Linked DNA regions of Homo sapiens. The protein of the gene in region 2 interacts with the protein of the main gene of each other region in a pairwise test. Each region holds a gene or a part of one and is shown on either strand. Other genes may lie near its edges.

Region 1 (3,500 bases), on a different chromosome or scaffold from region 2:
ATTGGGTTGATACAGTGGCTCTGGAATTTAGTAATTAGGAAATATTGCAATTAGAGACGGAATTTACCCATTACTATTCCATGCATCTTAATACAGGGTGTAAGTGGTTGTAACTGTGAGCTTGGCACTAGGCATATGGGAAAATAGAAGTGAATGGAGAAATGGGATGAAGGAAGGAGGGGATGGGAGGAGCTTAACCCTTTCCATACCCGAGTAGACTGAAGGAGCAGCCTGGGGGTGATGCAGGGTTAGGGCGAGCCCAGCAGCCCACCGCATTTGTAAGAGGTGACCGAGGCAAAAATCACAGGCTCCCTCCGGACCTTCTGCTTCTTTAGCTCAGGTAGGATCAGATGCAGGGCTTGGCAGGGGTTAGGAGAGTGGTGATGGAGGCCAAGAGGGAGAGGCTGCAGGGGAGAAGGGCTCTTCTCCCAGTTTCCTGCTCAGCTGTGGAGAAACAGAAAAGAGTTGTAACCACCTGCAGTAGTGTGCATGTGAGAGACAGGAGAGGGTACCTTGTACCTTCATCTCTCCCTCCCCACTTGTTCCTTCCCCCGCCCTTCTTTTTACTCCCTTCCTCACTCCTACTCTTAGCTCCATTTTCCTCTGAAGTCAAATGAGGCATTTGTGGTATTGCAGGGCTGAGCTGGGTAGGGCCATGTGTATGGGCGGCGGAGGGAGGGGAGCGGTGGCCGGGGGTGGGAGGGTGGTAGCGTCAAAGAGGTGGTGCTCATTTTTTCCTTTCCAGACCAGAAATGCCTTCCCCAAGGTCAGCCAGTGCTCTGAGCTCCAAAGACCTTCCCAGAGAACCTCTGCTCCCTAAGGGCTGGGTGGTTTGAGAGAAATCTCTTTTCCTCACCATTGATTCCAGTCTGAACTAATGATCCAGATGTGTTGTGCATGTCCTTCCTCTTCTACAAAGTGACTCGGGAAGCAGTTTTTATGCTATTTGTAGAAAGGAAGCATTTTCTGGAGCGGGGCCTTCTCTGCTTCTGCTACACCTTAACTCCCTAGATTAGAGGAGAGCTGTGAGGCCGCAAGGAGGGGGGCCTGGAGAGGGGCTTGGGCTGAGGGTGGTAGAGGTCTCTGAGGACTGTCCTTGTCTTCTGCCTCCTGTGTTTATTTGGAGAAAAGCCCATTTAACAAATGTACAGGTCTTTACCTCTATCCCTCTTGGGGCTGTCTGCCATGTATCTTTCATTGTACCAACTCAGATGGACCAAGTGACGGCCCGGTCATAGGGCCTAAGATGGGATGTTAGGAGACGGGGTGGAGGCCTGCAAGCAGGAGGAGAGGGGACCACCCAGGCAACCCTCTAGAAGTGCAGGAAGGATGAACAAGAACCTATTGGTTAAGTGCTCTTGGGTCTTGGAGGGAAGCAGACCTAGGACTGAAATCCATCCTCACCACTAGGAGCTAAGAAGAGTTACAGGTAAACCCCAGGAAACTCAAGGGTGGCTGTGGCTAGGATCAGTGTTAGCGGGAAGCATGGAGTTAATTGGCTGTGGGAGGGCTCCCTCTCCCAGTTTGACTCTCCCACGAGTAGGAAAAGGCATCACTTTAATAAGGCTGCCCTGTTTCCAAATCAATCCTGGCATTGCAGGAGGCGAAGGGGGAAGCACAGCTGAGAAATTGGATTAGCTCTTTGATGCTGGGAACTGTGCTGGTTGCTGCTGCTGCAGCTGCAGGAGGCAGGGAAGCATCAAGAACTGAGCCTGCCATTGGCAAGCCAGCCCCAGACGTCTGAGGCTTCCCAGGGAGGCGTGCTCCACCCCCATTAGGTCTCCTACTGGTAGAGGGTGGCAGGGGTGCCCTGGGGCAGACAGTAATAGAAGCCCAGGTCCTCACCACTGCAAACCTGGAGGTGTCTTCGTGCCTCCCCTGGAGTAGATCGTGAGCCCCAAAGACCTCAGGAGGTGAGGCAATGGGGAAGGGGCAGAGGAGAGGCCCCCACAGCATGTTCTGTAGGGCATAACTGAAGCAGCGTGTGTGTGGCTGGGAGTCAGATGGCCTAGGTCAAACCAAGACTGCCACTTCCTGCCTGTGTGACCCTGGGCAAGTTACTTAAACTTTCTGAACTTCGGGGTCCTCATCTGAAAATGGAGACAGTAACACACAGGGAACAGGCCCTTGTGAAGTTTACCTTATAGCAGTAATCAAGATGGGGGCCACGGGTCCCTGGGAGTCCCTAAGAATTTTCAGGGGGGTCCATAAGGTCAAAGCAGTTTCCATGATGGCAATAAAGTTATTTGCCATTCCCATGCTTGACATTGATGGTGCTAAAGCAGTGGTGGGTGAAGCTGCTGGCACCTTACCATGAATCAAGGTAATAGTATCACACTGCACCCGTCTTTGTGTTCTTCCACACTACACACCCGCTAAGCAAAGTAATTGGTAAATAATGAAATGCCATTTTCAGTTAAGAATGTCTTCTTTTCATGAAGCAGCAAAGATTATAATTATATTGAAGCTTGATTCTGGAGTGCACATCTTTTTAATATTCTCTGTGATGGAATGAGAAGTACACATAAAGCACTTCTGCTTCTTACAGAAATATTACACAATAATTTCTCAAGCAACTGAACAGTGCCCATCACCTGTGCATCTGTTTGAGTTGCAGGCTGAACTAGCCATTTTTCCATGGGATACCATTTTATCTGAAAGAACAACCAACAAACTCCAGTTATTCAGACTTGGGTGTTGAGCAGGCATTTTTGCAAAAATGAACGAAGTGAGCTCGTCACTTCCAGAAAAACAACTGGCAGTATTTGTGGCCAATGATAAAATTTAAGCTTTCAAGCAAAAATTAGAATTTTGGAAAACTCACACATATTACTATGAAAAGGACTTTTGTGATAAGATCAGTGGGAATAGTAATAGATGTGATTTGTTAATATTGTTTAATGAAATTCATCAATATTTGAAAGATCTTCACAATTCGGCAAGCCAATATCTTCGAAATGATAAATGAATGATGTCACAAAATCATGCACAGAGGCAAACAAGCATTCCAAGTGCAAGGTTTCAGATTCCCCACTGCAGCCAGTCTTTAAGAAGCTACCACTTGGGGAGCAGTGATGTCATATCAAAGAAAAATATCCACAATGATCTGAAAAGGCTTTATTAAATACCCCTCCCCTTTCCAGTTACATATCTGAGTGAGGTTGGATTTTCTTTCATCTTTCAATCAAAGTAATGTATTGCAGACAGACCGAACACCGAAGTTGATATAAAACTCTAGCTACCTTCTAGTAAACCACACATTAAAGAGATTTGCAATGATGTGAAACAAGGCCTCCTTCTTACTAGATATTTTACTAGAGAAAACGTCTACTATATATTTTTTTGGTCTTGGAAAATATAGTTACTTATTAAATATGTTGTATTAACAGGTAATGAGTTACTATTGTATTTTGAGCTAATTTAGAAATTTCTCAGTTTTAATTTTGAATATGGTAACTATGGATGGATCTAACTTACATAAGAAAACGCTCTTGGAGGGT
Region 2 (3,500 bases):
ATATTTAAAGAAACAGACATAAATGTAATAAGAAACCTCCAAATATTCTATTTTAAATAGTAAATTTATTCTAAGTTGCAATTTTGGAAAATCAGACTAAAATCAGCAAATACTAATGTCTATATTACAGGGAAAAACCTAGAAAATCTCAAATTAGTCCTCTAGTTTGTCCTCTCAAATTTAAAAATAACAAAAAAGGCTGGGCGCGGTGGCTCACGCCTGTAATCCCAGCACTTTGGGAGGCCGAGGTGGGCGAATCACCTGAGGTCAGGAGATCGAAACCAGTCTGGCCAAAATGGCAAAACCCCATCTCTACTACAAATACAAAAATTAGCCAGGCGTGGTGGCAGGCACCTGTAATCCCAGCTACTCAGGAGGCTAAGGCAAAAGAATTGCTTGAACCCAGGAAGCAAAGGTTGCAGTGAGCCGAGATAGTGCCGCTGCACTCCAGCCTGGGCAACAGAGCAAGACTCCATCTCAAATAAATAAATAAATCCAAAAAGACCTATAAAAAACTGCCAGTAATGCATCCCAAATGAAACAAATTTGCCCCTTCTCTTCAGAAGTAGCTCAATGCTATTCAGTAATCCACAAATTTTCTAAGTACTACGTGGATCTCCAGTGATAATGAAGATGAGAGGGTAATGTTTAATTGAGCTCTTACTATTTACCAGGCAATGTGCTAAACATTAATCATGTACATCTAATTAATCCACAGAATAAGGTAGGTACTACTTATTAACTCAATTTTATAATTAAGAAATGAAGGCCAGGCATGGTGGCTCACACCTGTAATCCCAGCACTTTGGGAGGCCGGAGGCAGGTGGATCACCTGAGGTCGGGAGTTCAAGACCAACCTGACCAGCATGGAAAAACCCCATCTCTACTAAAAATACAAAATTAGCCGGGGGTGGTGGCACATGCCTGTAATCCTAGCTACTCGGGAGGAGAATCACTTGAACCTGAGGGGCAGAGGTTGCGGTGAGCCAAGATCGCACCACTGCACTCTAGCCTGCGCAACAAGAATGAGACTCCATCTCAAAAAAAAAAAAAAAAAAAAAAAGAAGGCACCAGGCGTGGTGGCTCACGCCTGTAATCCCAACACCTTGGGAGGCCAAGGTGGGCAGATCACCTGAGGTCAGGAGTTTGAGGCCAGCCTGGCCAACATGGTGAAACCTCGTCTCTACTAAAACTACAAAAATTAGCTGGGCATGGTGGCATGCGCCTGTAATCACAGCTACTTGGGAGGCTGAGGCAGGAGAATCACTGGAACCGGGGAGGTGGAGGTGGCAGTGAGCCGAGATCGCGCCACTTCACTCCAGCCTGGGCAACAAGAGTGAAACTCCGTCTCAGAAAAAAAAAAAAAATGAAATGAAGGTTCCAAAGTTAAATGATTTGCCCAAGCATGGAGAAAGACTTAACAAAATGTCAATCCCTTTCTCTGTGGGAAGATAATGTCAGGCTCCCCTACTATACCCAGCCCTGTTTCCCTGGAAACACACCGCACTAAGAAATGTCTGATATGAAATGTCAGCAATGTACTATTCAAAGCTGTTTACTGTAAAATTGACCTCAAATGATCAACTTCATCTGGCATGGAGTGTGTACAATCTTTTCACACATAATGTAACAAACAATAGAAAATGACTACTACCCATGCAAAGGCAAAGCCATATAAAGGAAACAAAATTTGTTTAAATAAAAGAAATAGAAGCAGGCCAGGCACGGTGGCTCACGCCTGTATCCCAGCACTTTGGAAAGCCTGGGGGACGGATCACTTGAAGTCTGGAGTTCAAGACCAGCCTGGCCAACATGGTGAAACCCTGTTTCTACTAAAAATACAAAAATTAGCTGGGCGTGGTGGCATGTGCCTGTAGTCCCAGCTACTCGGGAGGCTGGGACAGGAAAATCACTTGAACGCGGGTAGCGAAGGTTGCAGTGAGCCAAGGATCGCACCACTGCACTCCAGCATGGGTGACACAGCGAGACTCAGTCCCAAAAAGAAAAAAGAAAAAGAAACAGAAACAGAAACAGAACCAGTGATGATCAAGATGCTGAAGTAAGCAAATAACAATGATCAAAAACTGCTCAAAAGATTAAACATATATGTAATTGGAGTTCCAGAAGATTAGAAAGAATGGGATAGAAGTAATATTCAAAGAGGTACACAAAAGTTATTCAGGCCGACAAGAAATGATGCCACATGGAAATATGGAAATGCAGAAAGGAATGAGACACTGGAATGGGCAAATAGGTGGATAAATCTAAATGAATACTTACTGTAAAAAAATAATAATTACAGAAATTTTATACTTTAAAATCAAAGAAAAAAATCAGAATAAAAAGTAGAAAATAGGGGCTGGGCGTGGTGGCTCATGCCTATAATCCAAGCACTTTGGGAGGCCGAGGCGGGTGGATCACCTGAGGTCAGGAGTTCGAGACCAGCCTGGCCAACATGGTAAAACCCCGTCTCTACTAAAAATACCAAAAATTAGCCGGGCATAGTGGCAGGCGCCTGTAATCCCAGCTACTCAGGAGGCTGAGATGGGAGAATTGCTTGAACCTGGGAGGCGGAGGTTGCAGTGAGCCGAGATCAGACCACTGCCCATTTTCCTGGGCAACAAGAGCGAAACTCCATCTCAAAAAAAAAAAAAAAAAAAGTAGAAAATAGGAATAGAAAGGGATTTCTTCAATCTGATATAGGACATCTATGAAAAATATACAACTAACATCATACTTAATGGTGAAATATGGAACACTTTTCTTTCCCTAAAATCTATTCAACTGTTTTTTGTTTTGTTTTGAGACAGGGTCTCACTCTATCACCCACATTGGAGTGCAGTGGCACTATCACAGATTACTGCAACTTCAAACTTCTGGGCTCAAGCAATCCTCCCACCTCAGCCTCCCCAGTAGCTGGACTACAGCTGTGCACCACTATGACCAACTGATTTTTTTTTTTTTTTTTTTTTTTTTGTAGACAGGAGGTCTCACTTTGTTGCCTAGGCTGGTCTGGAACTCCTGGCCCCAAGTGATCCTCCCTCCTTAGCCTCCCAAAGTGCTGGGATTACAAGTGTGAGCCACCTCGCCCAGCACTGTACTGGAGTTCCTAGCCAGTGCAACAAAAGAAAAGAAATAAAAGTCAAAGAGATTAGAAAGGAGGTACAACAATAATTCTGTCTTCATTGGCAGATAATATAACGGTGTATATAGAAAACCCAGAAAAATCTACAAAAAGGTACCAGAAGCAAGGTCACACATTATAAGACCAATATTAAAAAGTCATTTGAATTTTTGTGTATTAGAAATGATGAATTGGAAAACAAAATAATTTTAATTGCAAAAATTATGTTGTAGTAAATTCAATGAAAGATGCACAAGACCTGTTCACTGTAAACTAGAAAACACTGCAAACTACAAAACACTGCCAAGAAATTGAAGATGACCTAAAATAACAGTGATATACTGTTTATGTTTTGCAAGACTCAATATTTTTAAGA
Region 3 (3,500 bases), on a different chromosome or scaffold from region 2:
AGGTCTGCTCTTCTCACACACGGGGAAGGCTCCAGAAACGCCTGTGGAAGGGGGGTCTGTGTGTGGAAGAAACACATTGGACGTGCTTTTCCTGTTCTCACTCACTTCACCACAAGCAGCACACACACTTCCATGTGCAGGCGTCTCCCCAGCACCGAGCAGGCAGTCGGTCCTGCGGCGGGCACCGCCGGTTGTCCTGACCCAGAGACAGCGCCAGATGCCACCCACACTTAGACACCCATCGCAAATCTGGGCCTCTGGAACTTCTGGGCCATGTTAGGGTTCCATGACCCCTCCTTGGGCTCTGTCAGCTTGCTGGAGCGGCTCACAGAGCTCTGGGAAACACGGTTGCTGATATTTTACAAAGAGCATTTTAAAGGACAGACATAAACCGCCGAGTGAGGGGATACACAGAGGGAGCTGTGGAGGGGTCCCCAGGCAGGAGCTCGGTCTCGTGGAGTGGGGCTGCCGCCCTCACGGCACACAGATGAGCTCCTGTTCACTCTCCTGCCGGCTCCCGCAAATTCAGCTCTCCCCGGAGCCTCCCAAAGCCTGTCTACTTGGGAGACCTCATTGGATAGGCGTGATGGACAATGGTGTTGAAATGTGATTGGACCTAAGGGTGCGACGTGAACCCAGCAGGGTCTGTTGAGATTCTTCTGTCCTCTGTGCAGGCTCCTTCCTCCAGGATGTCGGCAGGACCCTCTCTGGAATGAGGGTTAGAGTCCTGCCTGGGCAGGTGAACAGAGGGCAAAAGGTCAGAGAGATTCTGTTTTCTGAGGCCTAAAGCACCCCAACGTCATGACAAGAGCTACAGAAGCACTGTGGGTACGGGAGCACCACGGGTACGGGAGCACCACGGGTACGGGAGCACCACGGGTACGGGAGCACTGCGGCTATGAGAGCACCACGGGTACGGGAGTGCCGCAGGTACAAGAGCGCCGCGGGTACGGGAGCACCGTGGGTATGGGAGGGTACGGGAGCACTGCGGGTACGAGAGCGCCGCGGGTACGGGAGCACCGTGGGTATGGGAGGGTACGGGAGCACTGCGGGTATGAGAGCACCGTGGGTACGGGAGCGCTGTGGGTATGGGAGCGCCATGGGTACGGGAGCACCGTGGGTATGGGAGGGTACGGGAGCACTGCGGCTATGAGAGCACCGCGGGTACAGAAGCACTGTGGGAGTTAGCACCCTGGAACCGTGGATGAAAACCCGTGTGTGTGGGATGCGGATACACTTACACACATGTAAAATAGTATTGGGGGTGCTGTGTGGGCGAGATGGGAGCCGGGGTCATGGTCCTTTGCCTGCATACTTCTCCTTGGCTGCGGAACTTGGAACGTGTCTCAGGGATCCCAGGAGGTGCAGGTGTTCTACCTCTGAGTTTGCCCTGCTCCCTGGGTGAGTGCCAAGCCCCTGTGAGATCACCTGGGCTAACTTCTGCTTTTATAAACCTCAGGTGTGGCTGGGGACGGGATGTCACAGGCACCCCATCTCCCCATCGGGCCACAGGAGGCTTGGCCTCTGTCCCTGCCGGGAGGGCCGGGCAGAAGACGGGCGACCCACACAGCTGGCACGTTGTGAGGGCTTGGATGGAGTCCTGAGGCTGAGGGAGATGGAGCAGTCTCTGCGGAGGAAGTAGGCAGCGAGGTCAGCCAGCTTCAAGTGCGGGACCGCTGAGACCCTGTGCATCCTCGTCAGGAACGGGGACCAGGAGCAGCAGCGTCGGGTCGGCTCGGAGTGATGGAGTGTGTGGTTGTAGTTACGGTAATGAGCGCCCCGGAGAGTCTGTGCACTGAGGCCCTGGCCTGGCCCCGGGGGGATGGGGAGGGGACAGGGCGGGCCCTGGGGGGATGCGGAGGGGGTGGGGCTGGCCCCGCCCGTGCTGCCGGGAGCTTCAGCCCTCCCCAGGCCCAGTTCATCCGGTCTGCGCTTTTAAGAGTGACCATCGGGCGGTTTTCCCACTGGAACACATAAGGCGTTTGCTGCTAGAACGCACAGCCAGCCTGACCCCATGCCTGCCAGCCAGGCAAAGTCTGGGGTCTGCTTGTGGGGACGTTGCCTCTGCATGGCCTGAGGGAAGGTTTTGGGAGGGTTCTCACTAAACGGGAAAGGGAACAGGACCACTCCAGGCCCAGCCTTTGTGCCGCACGTCCTTATTTCTGCTGCTCTGACGCCGCGTTTCACCTTGGCCCTGGGTTTTAGTATCACCCGAGTGTGAATTCTGGAGGCCCAGCAGCTGCCTTCCACAACCTGAGACGCCACCTGGCAGCCTGGGCAAGGCAGGGCCTGCAGGGCTAGGGCCGGCGACCTGGGGGCTGTTCCTGAGGCTCCCTCTGGGCAGGGCTGAGTCTGGAGCCGGCTCCACTTGCGCGTCTGAAGCTCCGTCTCTTTGGGCCTGTGGGCCCTGCCCACCTTCCTCCCTTGGCACTGCAGCCTGTGGGGCACAGGGTCCCCACCTCTGCCCCCCTTGCTGTGTGGTCTTCTGGCTTCTCCGCATGGGTCCAGGCCACCGCTCCGTGGATCTTCAGCCCTCCCCGGCCTGGGTTCCACTCGCTCTCCAGACGCAGCTTGGGCAAGGGGGTGTCTCTCCCCTTTGCCACTTCCTGGGTGCTCCTGTGGTACCTGCCTGTTCCTCCGGGGCCACGGCAGCCTTGGGGTGGGCTGGAGTGACCCCCCACTTCCTGCTGTCAGACCACCCCCCATCTGGAGGCAGGTCAGAGACGTCTCAGGTTCCTTTGTGCTCCGATCTGCCTGATGGGGGCGTCGTGGTATCCCCAGCCCTGTCAGGAGTTGTGATTCTTGAAGCCATTGTGGGTAGTGGTTTCTGAATGCAGGTTTGATAGATCATGTGTGCTTCCTGTATAATCTCCAGGGTCGTGTTTAAGATGACGTATTTAAAATGTGCACACACACGTACTTAACAGATACCCAAAAAACCAAGACTTTGGGCTGGGCGCGGTGGCTCACGCCTGTAATCCCAGCACTTTGGGAGGCCAGGGCAGGTGGATCACAAGGTTAGGAGTTCAAGACCAGCCTGGCCAAGATGGTGAAACCCTGTCTCTACTAAAAATGCAAAAATTAGCTAGGTGTGGCAGGCGTCTGTAATCCCAGCTACTCAGGAAGCTGAGGCAGGAGAATCACTTGAACCTGGGGGGCGGAGGTTGCAGTGAGCCAAGATCGCGCCACTGCACTCCAGCCTGGGCAACAGAGTGAGACTCCATGTAAAAAAACAAACAAGACTTTGGTGGCGAATGGTGACATGAGCCTGAAACGTGACAGCCTGAACTTCAGCTCCTTTTCTCTGGGGACCTGCTAGTGCCACTGCCCTAGGTGAGGGAGGCGTAGATGCTGCCTGGAATCTTCCCTGGGACCCACAGCCTCAGCTCCACATTAAACCGAAGGTCTCTAGGATGTTTGATAGGAAGTGACTCAAGAATTCCCGAGTTGATCTCGTAGCAGCCCTGCTTCTGGAAAGTCCTGTGTCTCGTGTACTTGCA
Region 4 (3,500 bases), on a different chromosome or scaffold from region 2:
GTAGTCCCAGCTACTCAGGAGGCTGAGGCAAGAGGATTGCTTGAGCATAGCAGGTCAAGTCTGCAGTGAGCTGTGGTTGCACCACTGCACTCCAGCCTGGGTGACAAAATGAGACCTTGTCTACAAAAAGGAAAAAAAAATTTGTTCTGCTCTACTATACATGCTGACTTTTGTTGATAGCTTGGTCTAAAAAGACTGTCTAGAGCTGAATTTAAGAATGGTTCTGGAGCAAATAATAACAAGGTAGACAAGCAGGCCCTGGGCTCACTATAATTTCATAGCCACGACCTGTTTATTATTAGTTGGCAGAGATTAATGCTTTGTGTTATAAATATACTATAGAACAATAGGTCACGATTCTCAAGAACAAAGCCGAATGCTCGCAGTTAAGTGTGAAGCTTGCATAAGTGTCGGAACCACAATTATGGACCCACCATCAATGTGCATTTTATCAGATGACTCCTCCTGAGACAGTAAAGACTCCTGGAAAATTCATGACATCTTTGAATCACTCAGAAAAATCTTGAAACTCAGGACGTAGTTTACTTAGCTTGCCTTTTTTAAAATTATCAAATTTTAAATCGTAAACTTTGTCTTCACTTCCACACGTTCAAGGACACCTCTTTTAAAGTTCAGTGTTCCATACTAAAGGGGTGTAATCTTGCTTTCTGGGGAAATAAAATTCCCCATGGTACTATATTCCTGACAGATATAAAATAACATGAGGCTACCTCATTTTTGAAATAGATTTCAATATTTTTATTAGTAAGTTGGAAAGACAGTAGGAACAAAATGAAACCTTTCTAAGTACTTGATGACACCCACTTGATCATGACAATTCATCTACCTCCGCTTTCCGTGTCCAGCTGAAAGCCCAGCTGAGTCAACTCCTGCTTCATCAGAAGGGAGCTAATGGTGATTCTGGGATTAAAAAGCAAGGGGGGTGCAAATTGTTAGTGGGGTCAAAATATCAGTAAAATTTCTTAAGTGCTTTGTTCTGATAAACGGATGTAAAAGTAACAAAAAAGGAATAACAACTAATATGGCCTGTGGATCTGACAAAGAAAAACCTGAAGAAATTCAGAATCTAGATACACTTAGATTCTAAATTAGACACACTCAGATTCTAATGAACACTTAGAATGCTTCGCCAGTGGCTTTTCAAGTTACACTGGAAGCTTGATTATGAAAAAGTTTTGTTTTCATTGGCAAGAGGGTAGATGATCAGTGATGACAGATTGTACAGCTGTGCCCAAACCTGACAACTTACACATTAAACTCCTGTAAGAGACACTCCTTCCTAGTAGAACAAGGACTGGGACAATGAATTTTTGACTCACTGGAGTTTTTTAAAATGCTGTTCTTGAGTGTGGCAATAGTGTAGGAGTTAACCCAGTCTACCCAAAGAAGTTGCTTTGCCTTTCAATATGAGTGCTATAAAAAGAGTATTTTGGAGTTCAATGTCCCTAAACATGTATGCGATAGGAACTACCAATATAAAATAACACTTAGAACTCAAATTAGATTGGTAATACTATTTTGGAGCCTGTGATGTATGACTTTTATTCTTTACTAGATATTTTTCAGTATCCGTCATTAGAAGAGTCAGTTTGTTAAATATTTTAAATGTGTAAACACAAAACCTTTCTACTGTGATCTTCCCTAATGAGTCAAAGTATCTTTCATAATTCAGTCTATATTGAAATGTTATTTCAGGAATGGAGGGTTTGTTATTAATAGTGCTGGGCCGGGCACGGTGACTCATGCCTGTAATCCCAGCACTTTGGGAGGCCGAGACAGGCGAATCACCTGAGGTCAGATGTTGGAGACCAGCCTGACCAACATGGAGAAACCCCATCTCTACCAAAAATACAAAATTAGCCGGGCGTGGTGGCTCCATGCTGTAATCCCAGCTACTCGGGAGGCTGAGGCAGGAGAATTGCTTGAACCCAGGAGGTGGAGGTTGCAGTGAGCCAAGATTGCACCATAGCACTCCAGCCTGGGCAACAAGAGCAAAACTCTGTCTCAAAAAAAAAAAAAAAAAAAATAGTGCTGCATTTTGACCCTGGACTATGAACAGACTGTATAGTTGGTGCCTCTTTTTTTTCTACCAAAGATTATTAGATCAAGATTGGTGCTATACTTCATGTTCCTTTCAAAATTATTTTTCTTTTAAAAATATTAATATACAACACAATAGAAAATGTATACAGCCAGCAACGTTATGCATGTTGCATGTTATATACATGACTGAGGAAAAAAGCTCACCTATACAGTGATTATTGAGTTCCAGTATCTAGTTAGAGGTATGCAATTTTTGTTAACATATAAGACTTTAAATTACGAAACTCACAAGAAAATGATCACCAAATGAGAATGTTCTAATGAACACAACCTCCCAAGGTAATAATTTTAAAGAAAAAGTCCCTTGTCAATGTTTCTAGCACAAAGTGAGGGATTTAAATATATTCTGTAACTTTGAGGCAATGTGAAAAAGTTATATATAATAGCTTCCTATTGAGCTGGCTTATGTAGACATTTGGACATTTGAAACTATTTCGCAACTTTCAGGCTAAAATCAGAGTTTTGAGAGTCATCAATCTTAAAACATGGATAATGAGTTATTTGCACAGTTATATTTTTATAATTATTTGAAATTTATCACTGAAAGTATCATTGTTTGTCTTTCAGATTTAACATAAACAATAAGTACTGCGGCTGGGTCACTGTCAGCAAATCTCAGGTCTATGATTTATCAAGGGCTCTCAGCACCATCGTTGGTCTGATTGTGTAACACCTAAGTAAAATAACATATGGGTCTCCTTGGCCAGGCGCCGTGGCTCACACCTGTAATCCCAGCACTTTGGGAGGCCAAGGCAGGCGGATTGCTTGAGGCCAGGAGTTCGAGACATACGGGTCTCTTTAATGTTCTGTAGGTAGGATTCAGATGAATTGAGAATGACAGGTTTCTTTTTCTTTCTTTGTTTCTTTTTTTTTTTTTTTTTTGAGATGGAGTCTTGCTCTATTGCCAGGCTCCATATAGTGGCGCGATCTCAGCTCACTGCAACCTCCGCCTCCCGGGCTCAAGTGATTCTCGTGCCTCAGTCTTCTGAGTAGCTGGGACTACAGGTGCCCACTACCACACCGGCTAATTTTTGTATTTTTGGTAGAGATGGAGTTTCACCATGTTGGCCAGACTGGCCTTAAGTGATCCACCTGCCTCAGCCTCCCCAAGTGCTGGAATTACAGGCATGAGCCACCATGCCCGGCTAGAGAATGACAGGTTTCAGTTGAATTCTTCTCTTTTAAAAGACCCTGACTTAACTGTATTTTATGAGGATTTTATAAATGTAAATTAAGAAGACAATACACACTCTCATTTTCCTAATTAGAAAGACTATGCATTCACAATCCAGTACACTGGATTTGCTCTGGTAACTAATGATAACACTTTTCTACGTTAACATGAGTTATATTTGGCAGAGAGAATGGAAGCTTGC

What was found.
Region 1: the proteins of FUNDC2 (region 2) and SYT2 interact in binary tests that used the Homo sapiens proteins (3 or more experiments, as listed by UniProt).
Region 3: the proteins of FUNDC2 (region 2) and SLC66A2 interact in binary tests that used the Homo sapiens proteins (3 or more experiments, as listed by UniProt).
Region 4: the proteins of FUNDC2 (region 2) and SLC16A10 interact in binary tests that used the Homo sapiens proteins (3 or more experiments, as listed by UniProt).

Annotation. Positions count from the first base shown.
Region 1 is NC_000001.11:202,700,455-202,703,954, reverse strand, and holds part of SYT2 (synaptotagmin-2), read left to right. Parts: intron 1-3,500. UniProt on the Homo sapiens protein: Exhibits calcium-dependent phospholipid and inositol polyphosphate binding properties. May have a regulatory role in the membrane interactions during trafficking of synaptic vesicles at the active zone of the synapse.
Region 2 is NC_000023.11:155,029,844-155,033,343, reverse strand, and holds part of FUNDC2 (FUN14 domain-containing protein 2), read right to left. Parts: intron 1-3,500. UniProt on the Homo sapiens protein: Binds directly and specifically 1,2-Diacyl-sn-glycero-3-phospho-(1'-myo-inositol-3',4',5'-bisphosphate) (PIP3) leading to the recruitment of PIP3 to mitochondria and may play a role in the regulation of the platelet activation via AKT/GSK3B/cGMP signaling pathways.
Region 3 is NC_000018.10:79,913,654-79,917,153, reverse strand, and holds part of SLC66A2 (solute carrier family 66 member 2), read left to right. Parts: intron 1-674; coding exon of another isoform or gene 675-723; exon of another isoform or gene 724-966; intron 967-1,459; exon of another isoform or gene 1,460-1,764; intron 1,765-3,500.
Region 4 is NC_000006.12:111,227,003-111,230,502, forward strand, and holds part of SLC16A10 (monocarboxylate transporter 10), read left to right. Parts: 3' UTR 1-3,500. UniProt on the Homo sapiens protein: Sodium- and proton-independent thyroid hormones and aromatic acids transporter.